Linked DNA regions of Homo sapiens. The protein of the gene in region 4 interacts with the protein of the main gene of each other region in a pairwise test. Each region holds a gene or a part of one and is shown on either strand. Other genes may lie near its edges.

The links.
Region 1: the proteins of CEP44 (region 4) and LRRFIP1 interact in binary tests that used the Homo sapiens proteins (3 or more experiments, as listed by UniProt).
Region 2: the proteins of CEP44 (region 4) and ERAL1 interact in binary tests that used the Homo sapiens proteins (3 or more experiments, as listed by UniProt).
Region 3: the proteins of CEP44 (region 4) and KIAA0930 interact in binary tests that used the Homo sapiens proteins (3 or more experiments, as listed by UniProt).

The regions. Positions count from the first base shown.
Region 1 is NC_000002.12:237,630,570-237,637,595, forward strand, and holds part of LRRFIP1 (leucine-rich repeat flightless-interacting protein 1), read left to right. Parts: intron 1-7,026.
Region 2 is NC_000017.11:28,851,102-28,858,037, reverse strand, and holds the start of ERAL1 (GTPase Era, mitochondrial), read right to left. Parts: upstream 3,023-6,936; 5' UTR 3,004-3,022; coding exon 2,721-3,003; intron 1,775-2,720; coding exon 1,647-1,774; intron 1,534-1,646; coding exon 1,456-1,533; intron 100-1,455; coding exon 53-99; intron 1-52. UniProt on the Homo sapiens protein: Probable GTPase that plays a role in the mitochondrial ribosomal small subunit assembly. Specifically binds the 12S mitochondrial rRNA (12S mt-rRNA) to a 33 nucleotide section delineating the 3' terminal stem-loop region.
Region 3 is NC_000022.11:45,237,877-45,245,310, forward strand, and holds the start of KIAA0930 (uncharacterized protein KIAA0930), read right to left. Parts: upstream 3,019-7,434; 5' UTR 2,828-3,018; coding exon 2,764-2,827; intron 1-2,763.
Region 4 is NC_000004.12:174,300,891-174,307,916, forward strand, and holds part of CEP44 (centrosomal protein of 44 kDa), read left to right. Parts: intron 1-1,148; coding exon 1,149-1,296; intron 1,297-2,812; coding exon 2,813-2,959; intron 2,960-3,356; coding exon 3,357-3,479; intron 3,480-7,026. UniProt on the Homo sapiens protein: Centriole-enriched microtubule-binding protein involved in centriole biogenesis. In collaboration with CEP295 and POC1B, is required for the centriole-to-centrosome conversion by ensuring the formation of bona fide centriole wall.

The DNA.
Region 1 (7,026 bases), on a different chromosome or scaffold from region 4:
GTCTCAGAAGTGGCTTCCTGGAGGAAGTGGCATTTTGAGTTCTTGAAGGCTGTATGTACCAGTCAAGATGCTTTGGCTGCTGGGACAGAAACCCTGACTGGACTGACATTGACAAGGGGAAGTATATTGGCTGGAGCACAGCAAGCCCGGAGGCAGGGCAGGATTCCCCGCCAGCCTCACCAGTGGCTCCGGCCTCTTTTTCCCACAGCACCTGCGCAGCTGGTTGGGCTGGGCCATCCTCTGTGGGTGGCCTCATCCTCAGGCTGACTTGCTTCATGGAGGCCAGCTGGCCTTGGCTTTCCCGGGCTGCCACTGTGGAGCCCACACACCGTCTCTTCTGGTGGCTCTCTCCAGAGAGCTAGCAGTATCTCCCTGGTAAACTTTCATGAGTCTGTCTGGCCACTCCTGCACCAAGCTCTTTGACAAGGACCATGGACTTAGGGGCTCAGTGCCTGTGGCAAAGGGGGGTGGGTCTACCCTGTGACCTGTCAGACTCATCCTGGGACTGGGGAGAGCCGGCCTCCCTGAAACACTTGGGAAGGTGGGGGCCTGAATGGAAACTGGGGAGGCTTCAAGGAAGTGGGAGGGAGTGGGCTGCCACTTGGGCCTGGCACCCAAGAACATGCCTTCTGGAGAGTAAGTGGAAAATTCTGGGCTGAGGTCATTGGGAAGCCTGAGTCACCTGGCAGGGACGTGGGTTCCAGTTCGCTGGAGCGAGGGGAAGAGCTAGGCTGCCCTGTGCAGGCAGGGCTTTGCACTCTTCTGGGTAGAAGCAGGACTCGTGGTGGGGGCAGCCTTTGGAGGGTGCATTTCTGCTTCTGCAGCCGGTGTCCTGCTTCCATGTGATGGTTTAAACTCTAGGCAAGCGTGTATAGTAAAGGGAGTTATTTGCAAATGCTGTATTATCGCAAGTCAATTATTTCTCACTCTCTTGTTGCAGTGGAATTCAGGCGGGATGTTATCAGGAGAAAGGTTTAGTACGCACTTGCAGAAGCTCATTAGCACCAAAGGCATGAGCTGCGCCTCCCACTTCTGGGGAGGGGTGTTTCCAACGCAGATAGATTTTCCTCTCCTACCGCATTTCACATTCTACTGGTGCATTTTGGTAGCATCCCAAACTTCTCATTCAGCACTCTGCAGCTGAGTAAAGCGATACTGGTCTCACCATGCAATTCAAAGTATTGCTCTCAAATGAAGAATGTTTTTCCCAACAGGAACAGTCATTTGCGCAGGCTGCATTAGGAACTCACCGTGGGGCCTTGAGACAGTGCGGTGAGCTTATTATCCCCTGGTGGTGCCATAGGTACCCCTTCCTCACCCAGCAGGACGGAGGCCCTCCCCCCATAACTGTTTCTGCAGCCTCCTCTCCAAGCTGGCCCCTCTGTGGCCTGCGGCCTCGGGCCCTGATCCATGGCAGGGGCACTGCTGCCCCACCCGGCTGCTTCACCGGCCCCAAGTTGACTCGTGGGCCTGCGGGTGCTGTTGGTTCAGGCCTCACAGCCACCGCCTTTCACTTGAGCCACGGCCACACAGGAGTCCAGTTGCGGAGAAGGGGTCGCACTGCCCCCAAGGAGTCCAGTTGTGGAGAAGGGGTCACACTGCCCCCAAGGAGTCCAGTTGTGGAGAAGGGGTCACACAGCCCCCAAGGACTCCAGTTGTGGAGAAGGGGTTGCATTGCCCCCAAGGCAGCCTGCAGCCATCAAGTAACCATTTTGTGAGGTCACAAAATGTCCCCCAGGCTTGTTTCAAGATGCAACCAATTCTGTGGTACGTTTCCTGCTCCGGAGCTCTCTGCGGGCCAGGCTGAGGCCAACTCCTGCCGAGACCACCTCCCTCCCCAGCCCTTCCCTGACTGGCCTGCCCCCCTCATGCCCCTGCTGGGACAGGGCTCACATCCAGTCCTGCCATGGGCTCTGCTTCTGGAACCCAACATAAAGCCATGCCCCTTGTTTCAGGTAGTTCGTAAATATCGGGTCTTTTCATCCTAAGTCCCCCTTTCATTCATCTTTTCTCCCTGTCCTTCCCAAATAGCCCTCCTATATCAACCTGTGCGGAGGGAGCCTGTCTCTCTTCTCCTCAAGGCTGTTGGAGAACCAAGCTGGGGATGGGGTGCACGTGTTCTTTTCCAGAACAGCCCAGAAGTGGGGTTCAGTGTGGAAACTTCGCTCTACCTCTCTCCAGCACTAACCTGACCTGGCTCCTCTGGGGTGGAGAGTCCAGGACTGAGCCCAGCTGCAAAGATGCAAATCTGGGTCCCCAATGCAGTCCCTTGCCCTCTGGTGAGGTGACCCTGGGGCCAGAATTCACCTGCACGCAACCAAGATGTCAGACTTGTCCCTAGGCCTATTTCACTTGATTTGAAAGTGAATTTCATGACTTTTTTCTCTATGAATTTGCTTTTCTGAGGCTGGCCAGCAGATTGCACACCAACTGAGTGCTGCTGGACACTGGTTTGCCATTGGGGCTGGGCCCTGCCCCTTTGTTCCACAGGAGTTGGGAGAGGTGAGGGGCGTTCAGTGCCCGGCAGGACACAGGACTGTCCAGCCTGAACAACATCCTGCCTCCAGTTGGAACCCAGCCGCAGTGGAGTCACTGAGGGCTGTTCTGCAGCTGATTCTCCTAAGCCAAACACCCATCTTGGCAGATCGTCTACAAGGTTTTAGGAATGTGACAAGACTGGTGTTCCAGACGGATTTTTACCAACAGTCTGAGCTGTTGGAGGGCGTGAACAATGTGCCTGTGACCTTGGGCTGTTTGTGCGATTCCCAAAAGATGCTTCTGGGTTTCTGAGTCCACAGAAAACTCAGCTGTGGACAGGCCTGCTGGTCCCCAACGGCCCTGGGCCCCACCCCACAGCTATTTCTGTCAGAGGGCCAGCTGTCTCCCTTCTTCCTTTTCTGGGTGACTCTTGAGCCACTCGTTGGCCTGGTACTCAGGGTTGGGATGTGTGTGTGGAGAACATGACCTGGCTTCTAGCCCTGCCTGTCCCCCGTGAGCCCTGCCCGTCCCCAGTGAGTGTGAGACGGGAAAGGAGAGAGGGGCGAATGGAGGTTGCTTCTAAGACCCAAGGTGTGCCAGGTACTCTGGAAGCTTTACTCCCATAGTTTGTTTAAATCCTGTGAAAAGAGTTCCGAGTCTCTCTGTTTGACAGAGAGAAAACAGACTCAGAGACACCATGGGACATGGCTGAGGCCACCTATTAATTAGGGGCTGCCAGTTCATGGCCCAGGCTGCTTCCTGGATCAGCCCCTCAGCTCCCTCCAAGACCCCATTCAGGCTATGTCCTGCAGGCAAGCCACCTTCTTCCTATCCCTGGCACATGTCGTCCCCCACTGACCTGTGAACCACCAGGGGTGACATTTCAGGAGAGAGAGTCCCATATCTGTCTCTGCCTTACTGTATCTCTCATCTTCTTTTTCCATCCTTTCATCTTTAAAAAATTGATTTTTATTTCATCAGAGTAATATATGTTTTTACCCATATTCTCAGGCCGTTCCCCACACAGTAGGCTGGGCAGTCCTTTTAAAATATGTCAGATCATGCCACTTCTCTGATAAAAACTTTCCAAGGGTGTCTTGTATCACTCCGTAAAACCCAAGTCCTTAAACAAGCTACAAGACCCTCAATGATCTGGTAATGATCTCCTTGTTTATAAATAACATACATATGTATTACACATTAGTTTATCAATTGCAGATGCTGTCAGCTGGCTCCTGCATTGAAGGACGGGACTTGGTGTGCATGGGCCCAGTTCAGGCCAGCTCCCTACTTTCCTTCTCTGCATCACACTATAGTTCATTGTAGTGTGGGGCTAAATGAATATTCACTGGCAGGACAGACTGCTTAAGAATATGGGTGCTAGAATCAGATTTCCTGGGTTCAAATCCTGATTCTGTCCCTTATACCATGACTTAGGGCAAGTTACTTATCAACTTTGTGCCTCAGTTCCCCCATAGGTAAGATGGGAAAGTTTTAGGAGTATACTTCACCCAGGGCAGTTATGAGGGTAAATGAGATCTTTCACAAAAAGACCTCTGAACAATGACTGTCACATAGTAAATGCTCAGTAAATGCTGGTGATGATGATGATCTTGCCAGCTGTGTAAATAATGTCAATTGCAGAGCCAAGCAGTGTACTATAATCTTTCTTTCCTTATACAACTTTCTGCTTCTTCTAGAGTTAATGATTTATTTTCTTTTTCATTGCTCATCTGCCTACATATCTAGCTTATCTATCTATATATCTACATATCTCCATAAAGTTTTCAATAGAACCCATCAAAATGCTATGTTCTATATGATTAAACAAAGCAGATAATCTATCAATTCCATTTTATTCTCCCATGGAAATCTACCCACTAGAGACCTCTGTCCTCTAGATCCAGTCTGGTCTGGATGTTCTCCTCAGGGTTTCCTGCACCTGCCATTCCCTCTGCCACCATTCTGAGAATTTCTTTTACCCCCTTTTTATTGTTGTTGTTAGGTCCCTATTTTCTGGATTCCATATTATCTGCCTTCTTGGATTGCTGTCTTATTTTGCTGGAACACATCCTTCAGTAGCTTTCGGAGCAAGAATGCCTTTTCTAAGTATTCACATGTCTGAAAATGTCTTTATTCTACATTCATACTTGATTGATACTTTGGTTGTGTATAGAGTTCTAGGTTAAAAATAATTTTCCAAAAAATGATGAACTCTGTGTCTTCTTTGACATAATTTCCAGTAAGTATTGTTAATTGGAAAAAGTAATATACAGAAAATAAAGATAGCATGCTGTTCCTTGTGTGAGAAAGGCTGCAATTTTCCTGCATTTGAATAAAAATCACTGGCAGAACACAATGAAAGGAGTGTGGGGATGGAGGTGGAAGCAGGTTGTCAAGTGCCACTCTTCATGCTCTTGATATTTGAACCATGTGACTGTATTAACTAGTCAATAAAATAAACTAATAAATATCAAAAAAGTAAAATTAGGAGCCAGGCATTATGGCTCACACCTGTAATTCCAGCAACTCAGGAGGCTAAGGTGAAAGAATAGCTTAGGACCAAGAGTTCAAGTCCAGCTTGGGCAACAAAGTAGGACCCTTCCTTTAAAAATATATTTTTTTTATTTAGCTGGGCATGGTGATGCATGCCTGTAGTCCTAGCTATTTGGGAATCTGAGGCAGGAGCATCGCTTAAGCCCAGGAGTTCAAGACCAGCCTGGGCAACATAGTGAGACCCCCATCTCCACAAAAAAGAAAAGAAAAAGTGAGTGGGTGTGGTGGCTCATACCTGTAATTCCAACAATTTGGGAGGGCAGTGAGTGGATCACTTGAGCTCAGGAGTTTGAGACCAGTCTGGGCAACATGGTGAAATCCCTTCTGTACTAAAAATACAAAAATTAGCCAAGCATGATGGCTTGTGCCTATGGTCCCAGCTAGTTGGGAGGCTGAGGTGGGAGGATCACTTGAGCCCAGGGGACAGAGGTTGCAGTGAGCTGAGATCACACCCCTGCACTCCAGCCTGGGTTGACAGAGCAAAACTCTGTCTCAAAAAAAAAAAAAAAAAATTTAAAAGAAAAAGTTTGGAAACTTTTAGGATCTTCTCTTTATTCTCAGAATTCTGGATTTTTCCCCCACTTATTGAGCATTCATTGGGTTCATTCAATCTGGAAACTTGTATCCTAAAATTCTGGGAAATTTTCTTGAATTTTTTCCTAGCCCCATCATTTTTTCTGTTCTGTCTTACAGTAATTTCTGTAAGACAGAACAGAAAAAGAAGTAATTTTTCATTTTCCTTTCTTTTCTTTTTTTTTTTTTTTTGTCTTTTGGTAATACTTCAAGGAAGATTCTTCAACTTTACCATCCACTCCCTCTACTAAGTTTACCTGTTTTATATTGAATTGCTAAGTTTTTTTATTGTTCTTTATCTCTATAGCATCCTTTCTTGACTCACTAATGCAGTACCTTTTCTTACTACTCTAAGGATATTAAGCAAATTCACTTAATTTGGGGGTTTTCCTGAAAATTTTTTTGTTCCCTGCATCCTGGTCTGTTTCTTTTCCTCCTTTGTGTGTTTTGGCCTCTGTCATCTTGGAGCCTTTCTCAGATGTGTGGTGATCCTCAGCTACCCTTTCATATTTTAGAGGGAGGCACTAAACATGGTGACTACAATTTGAGCAAAGGCCAGGAAGAGAGATGTCACAAAGTGTGAACAGGAAGCCACACAGGGCGGCTGAAGTGTTGGTACCAGACAGTGGTTCCTCAGGCAGGGGCAAGCAGCTCTGATTTGAACCCAGTCTCTTGCCTTTGAGGCCAGTGCCCTTGACCACCATGTCAGTGTTAGGAGGAAACATTGCTTAATGTTAACCAGTCAGACTTCTCTAATTTGGTGCCTGCAGGTGGAGTTTTGTTTTTGATTAAGGGACTAGTAAGGCTGGAAAAGAAAGTTGAAAATTAATCTGAGACATACACCAGGGAAGAACGGCTAACCTCTAGTGTCTACACAGCTCAAACAAAGGAACCCATCATTATGGTATTCTTTTACTGAGAGCGAAATAAAATGTCAAATTAGCTGAGCAAATAAAGATAGTAAAACAAAAAAATATGAGATTTTCATAGCTTCAGGCATCAAGAATTGGGCTGGGCATGGTGTCTTGTGCCTGTAATCCCAGCACTTTGGGAGACCAAGGCGGGTGGATCACCTGAGGTCAGATGTTTGAGACCAGCCTAACCAATATGGTGAAACCCCATCTCTACTAAAAATACAGAAATTAGCCAGATGTGGTGGCTTGCACCTGTAGTCTCAGCTACTCGGGGGGCTGAGGCAGGAGAATTGCTTGAACCCAGGAGGCAGAGGTTGCAGTGAGCCAAGATCACACCACTGCACGCCATCCTGGGCAGCAGAGCGAGACTCCATCTCAAAAAGAGAAAAAGAAGAAGACAAAAAGCAAAGGAATAATTCATTTATTTGCTTGGAAAGTTCTCTAAGATCTGAGATATACTTTCCATAAAACAAATAAAATACCTGGAGAGTTTAGGTAGGCAGAA
Region 2 (6,936 bases), on a different chromosome or scaffold from region 4:
CACCCTCTTTCAGTACCTCCCCGCCAATCCACCCCAATTCCACCACCATTACCTCTTCTGTTTACCAGGACTGATAATGCCAGGTGTGTCAAGTAGAATCTAAAATCAGGAAAGTGAGATACCCAGACCCCAGGAGAAAAGATTATGACTGGGAAGTCAGAGAGAGGCTACCTGTGATGTCAGGAGCCTGCCCTCCCTTCTCAGTCAAACTATTATTGACTTTAGGTTTGTTTTTTGTTTTTTTCTGAGACGGAGTCTCACTCTGTCATCCAGGCTGGAGTGCAGTGGCACAATCTCAGCTCACTGCAACCTCTGCCTCCCGGGTTCAAGCAATTCTCCTGCCTCAACCTCCTGAGTAGCTGGGATTACAGGCGTGCACCACCACACCCGGCTAATTTTTGTATTTTTTTAGTAGAGACAGGGTTTCACCATGTTGGCCAGGCTGGTCTTGAACTCCTGATCTCAAGTGATCCGCCTGCTTTGGCCTCCCAAAGTGCTGGGATTACAGACGTGAGCCACTGCGCCCAGGCTGACCTTAGGTTTCTACCATTCTGCTTTGATGGGATCTGGGAGAAAGATGATGACTGTGAATATAAGGAAGATTAGGAAGCAGTAAACAGAGAATGAAATCGGCTGGGCGTGGTGGCTCATGCCTGTAATCCCAGCACTTTGGGAGGCCAAGGCAGGCGGATCACCTGAGGTCAGGAGTTTGAGACTAGCCTGGCCAACATGGTGAAACCCCATCTCTACTAAAAATACAAAAGTAGCCGGGCGTGGTGGCGCATGCCTGTAGTCCCAGCTACTCGGGAGGCTGAGGCAGGAGAACTGCTTAAACCCGGGAGGCAGAGGTTGTAGTGAGCTGAGATCATGCCATTGAACTCCAGCCTGGGCAACAAGAGTGAAACTCCATCTCAAAAAAAAAAAAAAAGAGAGCGAGAGAATGAAATCTTTCTGACTAGATGTCAGGGGAGGGCAAGGTAGAGACAGAACTGTACCATGCCTAAAGGAAGAGGAAACCCCCTTTCCTGGCCAGGCGCAGTGGCTCACACCTGTAATCCCAGCACTTTGGGATGCTGAGGCAGGCGGATCACGCGGTCAGGAGATCGAGACCATCCTGGCTAACACAGTGAGACCCCATCTCTACTAAAAATACAAAAAATTAGCTGGGTGTGGTGGCAGGCGCCTGTAGTCCCAGCTACTCAGGAGGCTGAGGCAGGAGAATGGCGTCAACCTGGGAGGTGGAGCTTGCAGTGAGCCAAGATCGCGTCACTGCACTCCAGCCTGGGAGACAGAGTGAGACTCCATCTCAAAAAAAAAAAAAAAGAAAAAGAAAAGAAACCCCCTTTCCTCACATAAATGAATGTGACCATCATTTTCTTCAAGGCTGATGGTAAGGGAGACCCTCTTAGCTTCACCCTCTGTCCTGTTTCAAGGACTCCCTTTGTAGGTACCCACCACCTGGGTCTCCTTCTCTGTGATGACCCCCAGAGCTTGGCAGCGAGTAGTATGCACCTTCCTGGAAACAGGGAACACCTGCCAGGAACAAAGGAGTCTCAGTGAGGTCCCAGATCCCTCCAAGACCATCCTTGAAGGCATGGCAAGAAGTAAAAGATGTAAAGGGTAGGATGGTCAAGGGTGTAGCATACCTTTCGGCCCAGTAGCTGGTTGGAGAGTGTTGACTTCCCTGCATTCGGGGCTCCCAGGAGGACCACTCGTAGGACCCGGGAATTCTCAGGCATATCAGGGTGATGGACCAAGAGGACATCCTGCTCATCTATGTGCAAGTGGGAAGAAGCATGAGACACAGTGGAATCTGGATTTCCTGTCAAGTGCTTGTTCCTGCCCACCCACAAAGGGAGCAGGGGTACAAAATTAGTGCACCAGGTTGAAGTCACCTAGAGCTGACTTTGAGACTTTGGCCCTTAATTTACATTAATTTATAAAGTAACTCCCTGAGCCCTTTAGTTTTCTCATATGTAAAAGTGAGTTGATATTAACAGTACCTACTTACCAGCTTATAATTTTTTTGATGACTAGCAATTGTGTAAAACAACTCAGCACAATACCTGGCACTTAATAATTACTGCATGTAATTATAATGTATAGCTGTGCCTGAGAAGTGAATGTACATGAAAGCAAGCTGGATTACACAAAGCCAGATATTTCCTCAGCTCTCATTCTCTCACCCTACTAAGGGTGCTATGAAGGCCCTGCAAGCTTTCCCAGTCTTTTTTTTTTTTTTTCCTGAAGGAGGGACGGGAGGAAGGGCTAAGGGTCAAGAAGGGAGAGGGCCCAGTCTTTTTATATTATCTTCTTATGACACCATTTTGCAATGACCAGTTTGTGTCCAGTCTCCAATACCGGACACTGTTTGAAGAATAAAGTGTGCTGTTTTCCAGGTGTAACTGTGTCTTAACAAGAAGATGAGGCCCAACATGCATTTACTGGATCAAATTTGCTTCCCATGTCGGGGTGCAGAGCCATAGTTCCACTTTGTGGCCCTTCAATCTCATGCTCTTTAGTGAGCGTCTCTGGTTGTGACCAGATCGTTTCCTTCTCCCACTCAAACTGTTATTTCTCTCCTGAGAGATTTTTCACTGCTCCTCCCTGTCAGGGCCTCAAAATTGTTTTCTATAAAATAGAATCAAAGACAGTATCCCCAGAAACCTTTCAATACTAAAAACATGACAGTTCCGAGCAAACCTATCAGGGCGCTTTACCTCTGTTCATGGACACCGCGGGGACGCAAGGAGTCACCGAACTGTCGGGCTGAGAGAATCCGAGGAAGTGGTCCAGGGCAGAGCCCTGGCCATTACTGCGAGAAGCCGAGGCCAAGCGGGGACCAGAGAAAGCGGACCCCGCGACGCAGGACACGCACCTCCGTTGGAAGCCTAAGAGTGAGGAAAAAGGGATCACCCGCTCCCTCGCGACATGAGGGCCCACCTGCCAGACTCTTAACACCGATTGAACAAGCCTAGCCCCGCGCCAGCTGGGGGCAGCCATTACAGCCGCAAGGCACTGCGGGAACCGACCAGGAGCGCTCCTACGATTGAACAGAGCGGCTGACGAACCAGCGAGTAGGAGAGAGGTAGGTCTGCCCAAATTGAAAGCCGAGACACATGGGATGTGGGCGGGAGGAGGAATTGCTCTGGAGACTGGTGGAGGCTAAGGAAAGGGGAAAATGTGTATTTAGAGTCTGTGCAAGCATGACGGTAGTTTTGGACTCCCATACACAACGTATTTTTTTCTTCTGCCAAAGTTTTGTAAACGGCCCTTCTGGCCATGTCTCCTAAAAGACTACATTTCCCATGAGGCCAAATAGCAGAAATCGTCCTCCCATCGAGGGAGGAATGGTTGTGGGAGTGGGAGGGGGCACTGTTCCGCCTGTCCCCGTAAGGGTTTTGTTGTTGTTTGTTCCTAGTCCTTTCCATCCTTTGGCCTGCAGGATCCTCTCCCAGCCTTAATTTGGCTTGCCCTAGAGGTCAGCGGTGGCCCCGGGCTGTCTGCACCTTTGCTTTAGGCTAGGTTCCTGGAAGGAGTGGTCCTTGGGTCGGTGTTTGGGATGAAGAGCAGGTCTGGATTTCCCTCCTGTAAGCCTTGGCTACTGTCTACTATCTGAGGTCATTCCTTTATGGAGAACAACCAGAGGGTTTGCAAAGGAGGAAGAAGTGGCTTAGCCACCTAAGGTCTCCTAGACCGCTCTAGCAGCCGGAGAAACTCATTTACCTTGCTCTGTTTGAGGCCTTGAGCCCTCTTCATCCTTTGTAGCCTCTAAATCAAACACTTGAAACAGAGAGCTGGGCGCGGTGGCTCACGCCTGTAATCCCAGCACTTTGGGAGGCCGAGGCGGGCGGATCACGAGGTCAGGAGATCGAGACCATCCTGGCTAATACGGTGAAACCCGGTCTCTACTAAAAATACAAAAAATTAGCCGGGCGTGGTGGCGGGCGCCTGTAGTCCCAGCTACTCAGGAGGCTGAGGCAGGAGAATGGCGTGAACCTGGGAGGCGGAGCTTGCAGTGAGCTGAGATTGCACCACTGCACTCCAGCCTGGGCGATAGAGCGAGACTCCATCTCAAAAAAAAAAAAAAAAAAAAGAAACAGAGATAAACTTTGGTAGAGGGGGTGTTGAGGAAGGAAGGTTCTTAGAGTCAGTGCTCATTCTGTCACCCAGGCTGGAGTGCAGTGGCATGATCATAGCTCACTGGAGCCTGAAACTCTTGGGTTCAAGCGATCTTCCAGTTTCAGCCCTCTTGAGTAGCTAGGACTACAGGCACATGCTAACATGCCTGACTATGGAGGAAGATGTATAAAGCATCCACTAGCAAGCTCTGTCCTGTGCTGGGAATACATCAGTGAACAAAACAGACAGAAATCTCTATCACGGGATTTCAGGGACCCCATCTCTAAAATAACAATAGCAACAAAAATACAACACAATACAGTATAACAACTATTTATATAGCACTTACATTGTATTAGATATTATAAGTAATCTAGAGACTTTAAGATGACTTAAAGTCATCTCTTACTACAAGAGAATCAGCAGATTTTGGTATCCATAGGATGGGAGGGTGGAAATTATGGTATCTAAATTCCCTGGGAAGACACCACTGTATATTCTGGCTATCCTCAATTTCTCTTCTCCCATTCTTTCTTTTATTTTTATTTTTTTGAGACAGGGTCTTGCTCTCTCACCCAGACTGGAGTGCAGTGGTGCAATCATGGCTCACTACAGCCTCGACCTCCCAGTCTCAAGCGTTCCTCCCACCTCAGCCCTGCTAGTAGCTGTGACTACAGACCTGCCGCTGCCATGCCTAGTAATTCTTTTTTTTTTTTTTTTTTGAGACAGAGTTTCACTCTTGTTGCCCAGGCTTCAGTGCAATGGTGCAATCTTGGCTCACTGCAACCTCTACTTCCCGGGTTGAAGTGATTTTCCTGCCTCAGCCTCCCGAGTAGCTGGGATCACAGGCATACACCACCATGCCCGGCTAATTTTGTATTTTCAGTAGAGACGGGGTTTCTCCATGTTGGTCAGGCTGGTCTTGAACTCCCGACCTCAGGTGATCCGCCCACCTCAACCTCCCAATGCGCTGGGATTACAGGCGTCAGCCACCTCGCCCAGTGCTAATTTTTAAATCTTTTGCAGAGACAGAGTCTCACTATGTTGCCCAGGCTGGTTACGAACTCCTTGCCTCAAGTGATCCTCTGCCTTGGCCTCCCCAAGTGCGAGTTTACAGGCATGAGACACCATGCTTGGCCTTTCCCCAGATATTTTTTTCTTCAGTTGGTTGAATTCCTGGATGCTGAACCCTTGGATATTGAGGACCAGTATTGAGCAGGAGAGGGCTGTGGGGTTAACAGAGGATTTTCTTTTCTTTTTTAAGAGGAAAATTTTATTCTTACTGAGATGGAGTCTGGCTCCCCTAGGCTGGAGTGCAATGGTTGAATCTCACTGCAACCTCCACCTCCCAGACCCAAGCAATCCTCCCTCTTCAGCCTCCCAAGTAGCTGGGACTACAGATGCGGGCCACCACATCCGGCTAATTTTTTGGTAATTTTTTTGTACAGATGGGGTTTCACCATGTATTCCAGGTTGGTCTTGAACTCTGCCTACTCCATCTCCCAAAGTGCTGAGATAACAGGCGTGAGTCACTGTACCTGGCCTGAACATTTTTTTTTGGAGACAGAGTCTCGCTCTGTCGCCCAGGCTGGAGTGCAGTGGCACGATCTTGGCTCTGCCTCCCGGGTTCAGGCCATTCTCCTGCCTCAGCCTCCCGAGTAGCTGAGACTGCAGGCGCCCACCACCATGCCCGGCTAATTTTTTGTATTTTTAGTAGAGACGGTGTTTTACTGTGTTAGCCTGGATGGTCTCGATCTCCTGACCTCGTGATCCACCCGCCTTGGCCTCCCAAAGTGCTAGGATTGCAGGCGTGAGCCACCGCGCCAGGCCACGTTGCTTTTTTTAATTAAAAAAAAATTTTTTTGAGCCACAGTCTCACTCTGTTGTCTGAGCTGGAGTGTAGTGGTTTAATTTTGGCGCACTGCAACCTCCACCTCCTGGGCTCAGGTGATTCCCCCATTTTAGCCTCCCAGGTAGCTGGGACTACAGATGTGCCTGACCACGCCCAGCTAATTTCTGTTTTTGGTTTTTTTTTTTTTTTTGAGATGGAGTCTTTCTCATTGCCCAGGCTGGAGTGCAGTGGTGCGATCTCAGCTCACTGCAACCTCCACCTCCCTGGTTCAAGTGATTCTCCTGGCTCAGCCTCCCGAGTAGCTGGGATTACAGGTGCCCGCCACCACACTGGCTAATTTTTGTATTTTTAGTAGAGACAGGGTTTCGCCATGTTGGCTAGGCTGGTCTCAAACTCCTGACCCGGTGATCTGCCCGCCTTGGCGTCCCAAAGTGCTGGGATTACAGGGATGAGTCACTGCACCTAGCCTAATTTCTGTATTTTTTATAGAGACAGGCTGTCACCATGTTGCCCAGGTTGGTCTTTTGTTTGTTTGTTTGTTCGTTTGAGACTCCCAGGCTGGAGTGCAATGGCATGATCTTGGCTCACTGCAACCTCTGCCTCCCGGGTTCAAGCTATTTTCCTGCCTCAGGCTCCCAAGTAGGTGGGGTTACAGTCTTCTGCCACCACGCCCGGCTAATTTTTTGTATTTTTAGTAGAGATGGGGTTTCACCATGTTGGCCAGGCTGGTCTCGAACTCCTGACCTCAGGTGATCCACCCACCTCGGCCTCCCAAAGTGCTGGGCTTACAGGTGTGAGCCACCATGCCTGGCTTGGCCCAGGCTGGTCTTGAACTCCTGGGCTCAAGTAAGCCATCTGCTTTGACCTCCCAAAGTGCTGAGATTACAGGTGTGAGTTACTGCCCCTAGCCTTGGAACATTTTTTTGTTTTGTTTTGTTTTGTTTTGAGATGGAGTCTCCCTC
Region 3 (7,434 bases), on a different chromosome or scaffold from region 4:
AGCTCACCCCTCGCTGAACATCAAATCTCTCATCTGAAAAATGAGCCCTTTTTTTTTTTTTTGAGACAGAGTCTCACTCTGTAGCCCAGGCTGGAGTGCAGTGGCGTGATCTCGGCTCACTGCAACCTCCGCCTCCCGGGTTCACACCATTCTCTTGTCTCAGCCTCCTGAGTAGCTGCGACTATAGGCGCCCGCCACCACGCCTGGCTAATTTTTTTTTTTGTATTTTTAGTAGAGACGGGGGTTTCCTCATGTTAGCCAGGCTGGTCTCAAACTCCTGACCTCATGATCCGCCCGCCTCAGCCTCCCAAAGGGTTGGGATTACAGGCATGAGCCACCACGCCCGGCCAAAAATGAGGCCTTCTAAGAAGCTAAGATTCCCATCTCCGTGGCCCTCCACGCCCTTCATCTGCCAGTCCAGATAATAATTTTCTCACTTGTTCACTAAATGTTTACTGGGCACCTGCTCCGTATGTGCCCCATGCTGGGCACCAAGATGAATCAGACTGGGTAATGCCTTTGAAGGCCTCACCTGCTAACTGGGGAGACAGCACACAGACCATGACAAGGCCACAATCATCCTGATTGTCCCAACAAACATGTGCCTGGCACAAAGAGAACACAGGCAGAACAGGACTGTGTGCCTGGGAGCTGGAAAGAGTTCCCGGAGAGGCAACACTGGAGCTGAGACTTAAAGGAAAACTTAGAGATGCTTGTGGGGCACATGAGTAGGGGCGGCTTTCCGGGCAGAGAAAACAGCAGGTTTTCTCTGCTTCAGAGCCCTGCAGGGACTGAGTTCAGCAGCAGGGGAAGAGGGGAGACCTGGCACGTGCGGGAGGCCTGGAGAAGAGACAAGGAAACAGCGTGAGTATCGTAGGCACATAAAGACCTGGCTGGGGATATTCAGGGAGTGGAGGGCAGGCTCTGAGGTCAGGCTGGCAGAGGGTCAGTCCCGGCTATGCTGCTATGCTGCTTCCTCATTGGTTGTCCCTGGGCAGGCTCTCTCTCTCTCTCTCTCTCTCTCTCACCCTCAGGCTCTTCATCGCTGATATGGAGATAATACTGCTCCCTGGCAAAGTCAGCATTGTGTCAGGATTAAATTTGCAGCATGAGTAAAGCACCCGGCACATAGTAAGTGCTCAGTAAATGCTAGGTGCCATTTTCACTGTTCACTGTTCTTCTGGGAATGGCCCTGCAGCCTCCTTGCGGGAGGGGCTGCCTAGAAGAGGAGAGAAGGTGCTCACAGGTAAAGGTGGTCAGAGGACAATAGGTGTGTGTGGACAGGGGAGTGGGGAGGGACTGCTTGAAGCTGCTGAGCAAACAGGGCCAAGTGACCTGCAGCAGATGGTCCTTCAGATGCATCCCAGCTCAGATATTCGGTGCCAGCTGACAGGTGGGCCTGCCACGGTGGCACACAGTAGGTGCTCAATGAATGTTTGCAGAATGAATGAATAAGCACGCTCCAACTTCTGCTCAAAAGTAAATCTTGACACCTTTTCAGAAAGAAACCATTGAAACCTTGTCAACCATTGAAGTTCTTGTCCATTTCACTTCATAAGCACCCCCCACCCCACCCCTGCATGAGGAAAGGCTCGCCTGGGCAGGCTAGGCTGGGGCCTGCTCACTGGGAAGCCTCCCATGCTAAGCCTGCCTCCTACAAAAGGGATTCAAATTTACTTCCTCTCTCCACTCCAGCCTCCAGGGTGTGGCCTGCTGAGGGGCCCTGAATGCCTGGGACTGCCATGTCCCTGCAGCTGTGTGACCTTAGGGGGATGCACTTGTTCTCTGGGACTCAGTTTCCCCAACGGTGAATGAAGGGGTGAATCTGGAAGGCTGACATTCCGTACTCAGCAATGCTGTCACCCCCTCAGAAATCCCCAGCCTAGCCTGGGGGTGGGGTGGGGGGTGGCTGACAATGTGGTATGAAGTCATTCCCTGCACGGAGGAGGGAGGGGTCTTTTCCATGGAGAAAATGACGAACCTGAGACGACAAAAGAGGGGGCTTCTCCTGGGCTTCAGTCTGGGCATGATCCATCAGTAATGGATTACCTCACTGGCTGGGAGACCCCACCCACACCTGCAGTCCCAGGCCCTTCCAAACAATACGAGGCACCCCCATCCCACGCCCCCCAGCAGATCCATGACTTAAAGCCCAGAATCACACCGAGAGGCAGCAGGCCCTGCCCCTCAGCCAAGCGGGCGGGTTCGGGGGGCCATTGCCCAACAGGTCCCTGGATACAGCTAAGGGATGAGAGGGGCCGGTGGGTGCGGAAAGACAAAGGCTTCGGGTAGCAGGAGACAGTGGCCAGGGCACGCTCGCAGCGAGGTCCACCCAGAGCCCAACGAGGGCCCGACCCTGCCGCGCTGGGCTAAGGGTGTACCCAGATCCCACGCCCACACTCCCTACCGCGGTGCTGAGGGCCCGGGGCGGGCTTCCTGGAGAAGGAAGAAGACCCGCAGAGACACGAAGAAGAAGGAGGAAGATGAGACAGACACCCGGACGGACTGACAGGGGGAGACGCCGAATGAGACCCGGGCACAGGGGTGCGGGGCGCTCGTCGGACGGAAAGCAGAGACAGACCCAGATGCAGGGACGGTGGGGGGGGGGCCATGGAGGAAGACAGGGTACCCAGGCAGACCCAGAGACCACGACACCCGCGCAGAGACAGAGATGCGCGGGGCGCACAGAAACACGGACGCGCAGAGGCGGCCCCGGAGACGCTCACCTCTCCCGGCCCGGCCTCGCCCCCGGGTCCCACTCACCGAGGCCGCAGACCTCGCGGCGCAGGCTAAGACGGCCGCGCTCCTCCGCTATGGCACGCAGCATGTGCTGCAGCGAGCGCTCCTCGGCCTCGGCGCCGCCCGCAGGCTCGGGGGCGGCGGCGGCGGGGAGGGCGGGCGGCCCGGCCCGCAGCCCGCCGCGAGCACCAAGGAAGCCACAGTCCGCCTCTGTGCGCGTCGCCGTCGCCGCCGCCGCCGCCACCACCCGCCAAACACAGCACCGGCGAGCGCACCTCCGCGCCGCCGCCGCCCGCGCGCCCCCGGCTCCGCTCGCCCCGCCCCGGCCCGGCCCGGCCCCGGTCCGGCCCCGCCCCTTCCCCGCCCCGGCCCCGCCCCTGTCCCCTCCCGCCCCGCCTCTGAACGGCCCGGACCCACCCCGGCTCCCTGGCCCCGCCCCCTGACCTCCCTTGCCCCGCCCACTTCCAAACGGCCAGTCTCCGCCAATCTTCGGATGCCCAGGACAGCCTCCCTCAAACCGCTCGCGGGGTCCCGCCTCCACCCAAGGTCCTAAACGCCCCACCAACGGGATCACGCCTCTGAGCCCCTCCCGCCGCCCCTTCAGGGCACCTCTCCCCTCCCCCGCTGCTACCCCACGGGATGTGTACTTTGTCACCCGCCCTGTGCGTTGCCACCTCCACCAAGTCCCCTCGGCTGACTTCTGGGAACTTCCTCCGCAGAACCCCTCAAGAGGTCACCTGCTCCCAGAAGGTGGTCTCCTGGGGGACACCGTGGCAAAGCCCTTCCGGCCCCCCTCCTCTGCACCTGGCACAGTGCAGAGTGTTGCGCCTCCATTTCCTCAGCTGCACCATGGGGGACCTTTCCCTGCCTTGCCTCCCCAACATGGGGGAGTGTTGATGAAGGGGGAGGTATGAGGTTAGCTGGGCGTGTCATCCTGATGAAGCCAGGTCTGGCCAGCATCCCTCCGTGTGCTAGTTGTGGCTGATACAGGAAGACACCGGAGAAGCAGCCAGTGGCCTCCCCAAACCTCACGCCTGGTGGTCCATTTCCAAGAACAGGGGGAGATGGAGAGACCAGCATTGATTTCCAGGTCTCTCCAAAGCTAAATCTACATCACTCCCTGCATTCACAGCCTGTGTGTGGACCCCAGACCCATCAAGGTCCCCCTTTCCCCTGTCTGGAGTCCTCTTCTCCCCATTCCTGTGTAACTTGCTTCCTTTGTGTCCCGAGTGTCACATCCTCAAAGAAACTCCCCTGACCGCCTTCCCTCCCTCTCTCTTCCCTTAGTCTGTTTCTCCTTCACAGGGTGACACTTACCTCCTCCCGACACATTGGATACCTATGGGTTCACTTGTTCTCTTCTCTACCGAGGGAGGGGCCTGTCTACTACACAGCTGTTGTCTCAGTACCCAGAACATTGCCTGGCACACATTAGATGCCCAATAAATAGATATGGGCTGCAGGCTGGGCACAGTGGCTCATGCCTGTAATCCCAACACTTTGGGAGGCCGAGGTAGGTGGATTGCCTGAGGTTAGGAGTTCCAGAACAGCCTGGCTAAAATGGTGAAACCCCATCTCTACTAAAAATACAAAAATTAGCCGGGCATGGTAGCACACATTTGTAATCCCAGCTACTCTGGAGGCTGAGGCAGGAGAATTGCTTGAACCTGGGAGGCGGAGGCTGCAGTGAGCCGAGATCCCGCCACTGCACTCCAAGCTGGGAGACAGAGCAAGACCCTGTCCCCCCCCAAAAAAAAAGAAAAGAAAAGAAAAAAAAATGTAGGCTGCATAAACGAAGAATGATGGAGAGGTCTGATGGGGACGCAGGGGTCTTCCTGGGAGGCACAGCAGGAAGGAGCCGTGGGGTTGGGCAGAGCCCCAGAAGGGAGATGGGATCTGGATCCTGCTTCAGGCCTCTGCCCCAGTTTTGTGCCACTGGCCCCTGAACTCTTCAGAGCAGAGCCACATCTGACCCCTCTGTGTCCCCAGTGCCAGGCCCAGGAGGGCTCTGTAGAAAGGTGAGCAGTGAGGGAATGAAGGAAGTGCGCGACCAGCCTCACGTGTATTTCTCTTCTCCAGTGGGCCTGCATCCCTGTCTGTAAAGTGAGGACACTGGCATGAGGGCTGAGGCCTCTGGTTCTGCGTCTGGAGAGCTGGGGTTTGGGCTGGTGGACGTGAGAACTGGGGATGGTGGATCAGACAGCATGAGCGAGTGCTCCAAGGCTGTCAAGTCCAATAGTCACATCCCTCTTTGCCTCCCCAAACCCCACAGCACCCCCTGCCTGTTCCCACTGCCATGCGTTTGCCCACAGTGTTCCCTTGGCCTGAAATCCTTTCTGCTCCGCAACTGTAGTTGCCTTTGGGACCCACATTGCCTGGTTACGCTTGGCCAATGCATTGTGTTCTTATTTGCTTCACAAACCCCCTTTCCCCACCCCACCCTCCTGCACACAGTTGCCTCCGTGTATTCTGTGTCATATGACCAGCATTGAACCAATTCATCCCACTTCCCGTGGCACCCAGCCCAGGACTGGTGCCAGAAAAATATCTGTTGAATGAATGAGTAAACAAACATCGCTTGGGCTCTCTCCTTTGTATTTCAATAATACTCCAGGTATTACCTATACACAGAATTTTCTTTCTTTCTTTTTTTTTTTTTTTTTTTTTGAGGCGGAGTTTTGCTCTTGTTGCCCAGGCTGGAGTACAATGTCGCGATCTCGCCTCACCGCAACCTCCACCTCCCAGGTTCAAGCAATTCTCTTGCCTCAGCCTCCCAAGTAGCTGGGATTACAGGCATGTGCCACCACGCCCGGCTAATTTCATGGAGATGGGGTTTCTCCATGTTGGTCAGGCTGGTCTCGAACTCCTGACCTCACATATACACAGAATTTTCTAATGTCAACAAATGCTAAATCACACTGTGCATGGGAAGAGGGCAGGAGCAGGACTTCTGGGGCTACAGAGCATGTTCTGTTTCTTGATCTGGGGGCTGGTTACACGGGTGTGGTCAGTTTATGAAAATTAAAAGGCTGCACAGCTGGGCATGGTGGCTCACGCCTGTAATCCCAGCACTTTGGGGGGCCAAGGCGGGCAGATCACCTGAGGTCGGGAGTTCGAGACCAGCCTGGCCAACCTGGCGAAACCCCATCTCTACTAAAAATACAAAAATTAGCTGGGCGTAATGGCACACACCTGTAGTCCCAGCTATTCTGGAGGCTGACGCAGGAGAATCGCTCGAACCTGGGAGGCAGAGGTTGCAGTGAGCCGAGATTGTGCCACTACACTCCAACCTGGGCAACAGAGCGAGACTCCATCTCAAAAAAAAAAAAAAGTTAGAAAATCAAAAGGCTGTGTGCTGTGGTTCAAACCTGTAACCACAGCACTTTGGGAGGCCAAGGCAGGCAGGAGGCTGGCTTAGGCCCAGGAGTTTGAGACCAGCCTGGCCAACATAGCAAGACCTCATCTTTACAAAAAAAAAAAAATTAGCCAGGTGTGATGACACACGTCTGTGGTCACAGCTACTCAGGAGGCTGAGGTGGGAGGATTGCTTGAGGCGGGGAAGTCAAGGCTGCAGTGAGCCGCGATCACACTGCTGCACTCCAGCCTAGGCAACAGAGTGAGACCTGGTCTCAAAAAAAAAATATATATATATGTATATATAACATATATATATGTAATATATATAATATATATGTTATATATGTAATATATGTATGTAATATATATATAAAGCTGGCATTTTGTAATTATTTATGCACTTTTCTGTATACAAATATTCAGAATATAAAATAGAATTGAAAGTATATAGGCAGAATAATGGCCCCAAAATGCCCACACCCTAATTCCTGTGCTAATTCCTGTGAATATGTTGCCTTACCTGGCAAAATGGACTTTGCTGACGTGATTTTTTGTTTGTTTGTTTTCGAGACAGGGTCTCACTCAGTTGCCCAGGCTGGAGTGCAGTGGCACGATCTTAGCTCACTGCAACCTCCACCTCCCCAGCTCAATCCATCCTCCCACCTCAACCTCCTGAGTAGCTGGGACTAAGGGTGTGTGCCACCACACCCGGCTATTTTTTGTATTTTTTGGTAGAGACAGGGTTTCACCATGTTGGCCAGGCTGGTCTCGAACTCCCGACCTCAAGTGATCTGCCCACCTCGGGCTCCCAAAGTGCCGGGATTACAGGCATGAGCTGCCACATGGGGCCTAAGAGTACAGACACTGAGATAGGGAGACTATCCTGGGTTATCCAAGTGGGCCCAATCTCATCACATAAATTCTTAAAATCGGGGAACATTTCCTGGCTGTGGTCAAAAAGAGATGTGACAACACAAGAATGGTCAGGTAAATGCAATGTTGCTGGCACTGAAGAGGGAGGAAGGGGCCACAAGACAAGGCATACAGGCAGCTTCCGGAAGCTGGAAGAGGCAAGGAAACAGATTCTCCTACAGTTGCCCCCAGATATGACACAGCCCTGCCTGCACCTTGACTTTAGCTCAGCAAGACCTCAGTTGAACTTCTAACCTACAGAACTGGAAATGTGTTAAGGCAATAACGTTGTAGTAATTATTACAGCAGTGATACCAATACGTGGGCAAGCCTGAGATGTGGGCATTGTGTCAGCTCTCCACCTAAGCGCTTCTATCCCTGAGGTTTATTTTGCAAACACTTAGAACAACAATCAAGCAAAGTTTA
Region 4 (7,026 bases):
GCCTGGCTATCATCTATGTATAGTGTGCATAAAATGGACAGATTTTGCTGTTCAAAGGTATTTTTTTTTTCATTTCCTGTTTTTGGACTGTGTTTCAGATAGACAAGGTTGCCAGAGGAGTTTTCTGATTGGGTGAAATATTACAGTATTTCAAAGAAACATAAAAGAAATAATTCATATTTGTCCAGTAAAACAAAATGCAGTGCTATCATCATGTATTTGTTCTCTGTCTTACTAAAAATTTGGGTGGAGATGGGGATGTTTATGTGAACATCTTGAATTTTTTGGAAAACATTTGCTTTATATAAGTACAAAATACTGCAATTGAACAAATGTAACTGGCAAATTGAACAAATACCTCCTGTGCTTTGTTGTGGGAAAATCAGTGAAGGTACTTCACATTGAGAAAATAAGACAGGAAACACTACCAGACAGATAAAGACACAGCAGATACTGAGTAGCCTGGGAGTCTTTCTTGGAGAGATCAGTATAGATCAGAAAGTTGAGGAAAGCTTCATGGGAAGCTTGAGATTTGATGAATGATTTGTAAAAAATAAATAATAATTGGATAAGCAAAGAAGAGTGGGATACCTTTCTAGACTGGTGGAATTAACATAGGTAATAATATACGATTTAGAAGGAGCAGTAAGTGAAAAGTAATAGACTGGTCAACCAAGTCACAGTTCATGCTTTTTCCCATCCCATCTTCCTCATCTGTAACTTAGAATTCATAATATTTACCTTTGGAAGTTTGTGGTAGAGAGCAAAGGAGGTAATAGAACAAGTGTTTGCAAAACCATAAAGTGTACTTCAATTTTGTAAGATGGTACATTGCTTTTATTAGTAGTAGAAAATGGAGTAGATCACGTAAGACTAAGCTTTGGAAAATCAATGGTAAATAGTTGGTACTAGAGACCTATAGTAAGTTTTTTGAGCAGACGAACAGTGGTATTTCATAGTAGTCTGGCTAGACTGGTTTCAAATGGGGAATGGAATCTAGAAAGTCTCATGTATCACCTAATTATTATAGCTATAGTGTTAAGTTTTAAATTATTATAAACATTTCTAATATTTTCTTGATTATCCAACTTTGTGGAATTATGCTTATTAAATGCTTATTAAAAATATTTTTCTTTTTTTCCTAACAGTTTGATAAAGGGAGACCCAGCAGCATCTTTGCCCATCATCAGCTATTCTTTTACCTCATACTCACCTTATGTAACAGAACTTATAATGGAATCCAATGTAGAGCTCATAGCAAAAAATGACTTGCGCTTTATAGATGCTGTCTATAAGGTATTTTGAGTTTATCAAACAATAACTATTAGTTATTGAATGATTTTTAAAAATTAATGATTTAGTCATAACTTCTTAAATATATGCAGCATATACAATTGACAGGATATTTTCATTTGTATTTATCTCATTTAAATGTAGTCTCTATTGAAATCAAGATGCAATTCATGTTTGCTTTTTGAATGTTACCTATTCTAATAAATACAGCAACTGGTAAATATTTGTTGTTGGCTATTGTTTGCCCTTTTTAATCAAATTTTAGTAAAATTTGATATACTGGCAGAAATTAGAGAGTAATGTAATTATATTCAATAAAACTTACAGTTTTTTAGAATTATATGTTAATTTAGTTGTTTGTAAGAAGGAACTATTACTGACATTTTTTTTTTATTAAACTGATATATTCTTTGAGGTCTGAGAGCATGTCTTATATTGTATCTACCCTAGTATTTATACTTGTACTATGTGTATACTGAATTTAATCTCTTATTTGATTTTTTTAAAACCCTGCTTTTATCATTAATTTTTGCTTAAGTACTGTGGTTTGTATTAAAGTTAGTTTTTAATGGTAAAAACCCACTTATCAAATGTAGTCTATTTTTTTTTTTTTTTTGAGACAGAGTCTTGCTCTGTCACCAGGCTGGAGTGCAGTGTCACGATCTAGGCTCACTGCAGTCTCCGCCTCCTGGGTTCAAGCAGTTCCCCTGCCTCAACCTCCTGAGTAGCTGGGACTACAGGCGTGCACCGTGACCACGCCTGGCTAATTTTTTGTATTTTAGTAGAGAGGGTTTCACCATGTTGGCCAGGATGGTCTCGATCTCCTGACCTTGTGCTCTGCCCACCTTGGCCTCCCAAAGTGCTGGCATTACAGGCATGAGCCACCGCACCCAGCCTCAAATAGTCTTTTAAAAAAAGCAGAGTTGCAGTCAATGAAATGGGAGCTTTTATATGTAGTCTCTGTTTAATCTTTCTCTTTCTTGCTTTTGATCCCAGAAGACATCCATGGAAGCCTAAGAGGCACTTTTAAGAAATTCTAGAGCTCCACAGAGTAGATTTAGGAAACTACTGATCTAGTGTGTTTTTTTTCATTTTACAAATGAAAAATTGAGACCAAAAGGCCTACTGACGTATCCAAAAATCACATAGTGGAAGAGTTATAAACAAATAGAACTATAGTTTCTGACTCTGGTATGGTATTCTAGTGAACTAAGAAGTTTTTCTAATATCTCTGAAGATATTTACACTTTTTGATGATTGACTATATTTTTCCATCTCTCTGGACAGACATCTGTTCTCCAGCATATCCTTTGCTACCTGTTTTCCACCTGATACCTGTCTTACTGGATCATGACTTAACACCAGCCCTATGAATTACTTTAGTACTCTTTAGTTAATGGCTTGGTTTTCCTTGTCCTCTCAAAGGTGGCCATTATTCCCCTGACCAGGTGGGCATTATCATTTGGAATTTTAGAAATAAATTGCTCCCAATTATTACAAGAGTCTGTTTCCTCTGCAGCTTCTTCGTGATCAATTTAATTATAAACCAATTTTGACAAAAAAGCAGTTTATCCAATGTGGGTTTGCAGAATGGAAAATCCAAATTGTTTGTGATATTTTGAATTGTGTGATGAAAAAGCACAAGGAATTAAGCAGTCTTCAGAAGGTAATTTTATGAATAGATATTAATGCTGATGTATGCTATTAATAGATGGCTCAGTATTTTAATGTATAAAATCAAAACCCTAGACAGCAAATTATTTCATAGTGTAATTACTGTATTATTCAAAGATTTGAGTAACCTTATAAAGCTTGTTGTTTATTTTAAATACTACTCTCTTGTTTTATACACCTGTGACTGGGAACTCCTAGTGTTAAACTAATAGTTCAAACATAATACATTTTCATTACTTCTTAGTTTTTAAAAGTCATGTAGTCTCATTAGAGTCTCATTATTTGTCAGCTATATTTCATATATGAAAATTTAAATGTTAATGGAATTTTAATATATAATTATGCTTTCACACAAAATTTGTTATTTTGACTAATACCTTTTTTTTTAGATTCCATCACAACAAAGAAAGAAAATCAGTTCTGGTAAGTCAGAACCTCCTTTGGGCAATGAGAAAATATCTGCAGAGGCTGTTGGCGTTGATATCAGTGGCAGGTTTATGACCTCAGGAAAGGTATGCAACCACAAAGAAAATATCATATTGTTTAAGAGTTATCTAATTAATCCAATATACAGTTTTCACTTTTCTGATTGGCACCTGATGAACATTCTAGTTAGATATTGGAGTTCATTGATTTTTAACAGTGCATGCCATATATTTTTGGGCAGTATGCCTGAAGTTATAACAATAGGATAGAAATATAAAATTAAATACGTGTTCTCTTTATATTTCTAATTTCTAATTCTGCCGGATTTCCTAAACAGAAGAGTAGTGATTTAGGAAGATTATCTTATGCAGTTATCTACATTTGCTCTTAATTGTGTTCTGGTCTTCCTAAAACATGGGAACATATGAAGAGCCTACATTAGCAGTAGTGATAGGTTATAATGATTCATTTATGTACATTATATTTCTGTAACCAAGTATGAATTATCCAATAATTGGTAGTCCCTACACGTAGAATCTGGTTTTCAGTTAATATTTTGAATATTTTCTCTTTCTTGAAAGATAATTTTTCTGCCATTATCTGCTTTGAGCAGCTGTGGCAAATTGAATCTAATGCACTTAGAGCTACAGTGTTTCTATCACTAAGGGAGACTTAAGCTAAAATATTATTTATTAATATATTTTCAGCTGTCTTCCAGCTGGAGAAGACTCTGATTGAATGATAGAATATCAGATGAATTATCAATGGTGTAATTAAGTAAAGGATGTGAATACTTTCTGACTGAAGTATAATCTAGAGTATTATTTCTGCCCTAATCCAAAATACATGAGTTATGTAAACAGAATCTATTTTAAAAATTTATTCTTGGGTCTAGCACAGTAGCTCATGCCTGTAATCCCAGCACTTTGGGAGGCCAAGGCAGGTGGATCACCTAAAGTCAGGAGTTTGAGACCAGCCTGACCAGCATGGCGAAACCCCATTTCTACTAAAAATACAAAAATTAGCTAGGCGTGGTAGCTGGTGCCTGTAACCCCAGCTACTTGAGAGACTGAGGCAGGAGAATCGCTTGAACCCTGGAGGCAGAGGTTCCAGTGAGCCGAGATTGTACTACTGCAGTCCAGGCTGGCTGACAGAGCGAGACTCCATCTCAAAAAAATATGTTTATTCCTTTATACCTTAAAAAAGTGAAATTTTATTATAAGAAAATGTTCTTATGCCACTTCTTTTTAATGTACCTGTTTTGCTCTAGGTAATGAAGACAATATAAAGAATGATACAAAGCCGCCATTTTTGAATAAGTGCATGTAGTTTTTGTACACTTGCATCTCTAACTCATCTAACTCTTGTTAGTTTTATTTATGATTTTCTAACTGTTAAATGACTTATATCTTGTATTCTTCCCCAACTAGAAGGAACATATATGAACAGGGATTTTCTTATACTGATTTTTTGTACCTTCATTTTGCTTAGCACAGGATTAGGAACACTGTGAGCACTTATTAATTATTTATTGATATAATGTGCTTTTCAATGTTCTATTTCAGTATGAGAGTTGAGGGGACAGTGTAAATTGTCCTAGCCAAGAAAAATGTAAACTTCAAAACATTAGACTTATTTTTAATTTTCTTAAAGCAAAGTTTTCTTTGTTATCTATTAAAATTTATACCAGATCTTTATCAGAAATTTGAATAAGTATTAAAAGTTCTCAGATTTAGAAAAGAGTCTACAAGTACATTTCTTTGTTTACAAGCAAAAGTTGAGTCAATATTAAAGCAAATTGTCTCCTATCCCAGTGCCTTATATAGTATGCCTATTTGCGCTTCTGAGTCACATATGTTTTTATAGTGTGTATGCAAACTGTAGAATAGGAAGCAGGTAGAGGATTTCTAGGTAAATGCATACCGTGACCTAATGCTTTTTTTGTCAGGACTTCTTCGTTGTCATTATTAGGTTTGAATTGTTAGCTGAAGGTCTAATAAATTGCAGTTTGTTTAACAGAAAAATTGTAATGAGCCCTACTCATAGAGCCAGTTTTTGATTATTTATAAGTGAATTATTTGGCAATCTTTTTTAAAAATAACTTTTTATTATGGAACATTTCAAACATTTACAAACATACCCATCATCCAGTTTCAGCAATTTATCAACTCTTTGCTAATCTTGTTTTGTCTTTATTTTAAATCAAATCTCAGACATAATTTAATAAATATTTCAGCGCTTGTCCTAAAATGTAAGAATTGTTTTAAAAGTCATAACCCCAATTTTATCATCACACATAAATTATTGGTAATGTTAGTAATGGTAATATTTTGATATATATATTATATGTGATAATTTAAACTTTTTTTAATTTTTAAAGATTGGTGTTCCTTTTGCAAAATTGCTGTATGTTTAAAATAATTGTAGGAGGATCTTCTCAGCCCAAAAGCTTCTTAAGCTGATAAGCAACTTCAGCAAAGTCTTGAGATACAAAATCAATGTGCAAAAATTGCTAGCAATCTTATCTACCAACAACAGTCAAGCTGAGAACCAAATCACAAACAAACTCCCATTCAAAATTGCCACAAAAAGAATAAAATACCTAGGAATCTAGCTAACAAGGGAGGCAAAAGATCTCTACAAGCAAAACTATAAACCATTGCTCAAAGAAATCAGAGATGACACAAACAAATGGAAAAACATTCCATGCTCATGGATAGGAAGAATCAATATTGTTAAAATGACTGTACTGCCCAAAGCAATTTATAGATTCAATGCTACTCCCATTAAACTACCATTGACAGTCTTCAGAGAACTAAAGAAAACTACTTTAAAATTTATATGAAACCAAAAAAGACCCAAATAGCCAAGGCAATCCTAAGGAGAAAGAACAAAGCTGGAGGGATCATGCTACCCAACTTCAAACTATACTACAGGGCTACAGTAACCAAAACATCATGGTACTAGTACCAGAACAGACACATAGACCAATGGAAGAGAATAGAGAACCCAGAAATAAGACCACACACCTGCAACTATCAGATCTTCAACAAACCTGATGAAAACAAGCAATGGGGAAAGGATTCCCTAGTCAGTAAATGGTGCTTTGATAACTGGGTAGCCATATGCAGAAGATTGAAACTAGACCCTTTCCTTACACCATACACAAAAATCAACTCAAGATGGATTAGAGACTTAAATGTAAAACCCAAAACTATAAAAACCCTGGAAGACAACCTAGGCAGTACCATTCAGGACATAGGTGTCGGCAATGATTTCATGACGAAGACGCCAAAGGCAATTCCAACAAAAGCAAAAGTTGATAAATGGGATCTAATTGAACTAAAGAGCTTCTACACAGCAAAAGAAACTATCAGCAAAGTAAACAGACACCCTCCGGAGTGGGAGAAAATTTTTGCAAACTTGTATCTGACAAAGGCCTAATATCTAGCATCCATAAAGAACTTAAACAAATTTACAAGAAAAAAACAACCTAATTAAAAAGTGGACAAAGGATATGAACATCTACTTCTGAAGAGAAGGTATACATGCAGCCAATAATCACATGAAAAAAACTCAACATCACTGATCATTAGAAAAATGCAAATCATAACCACAATGAGATACCATGTC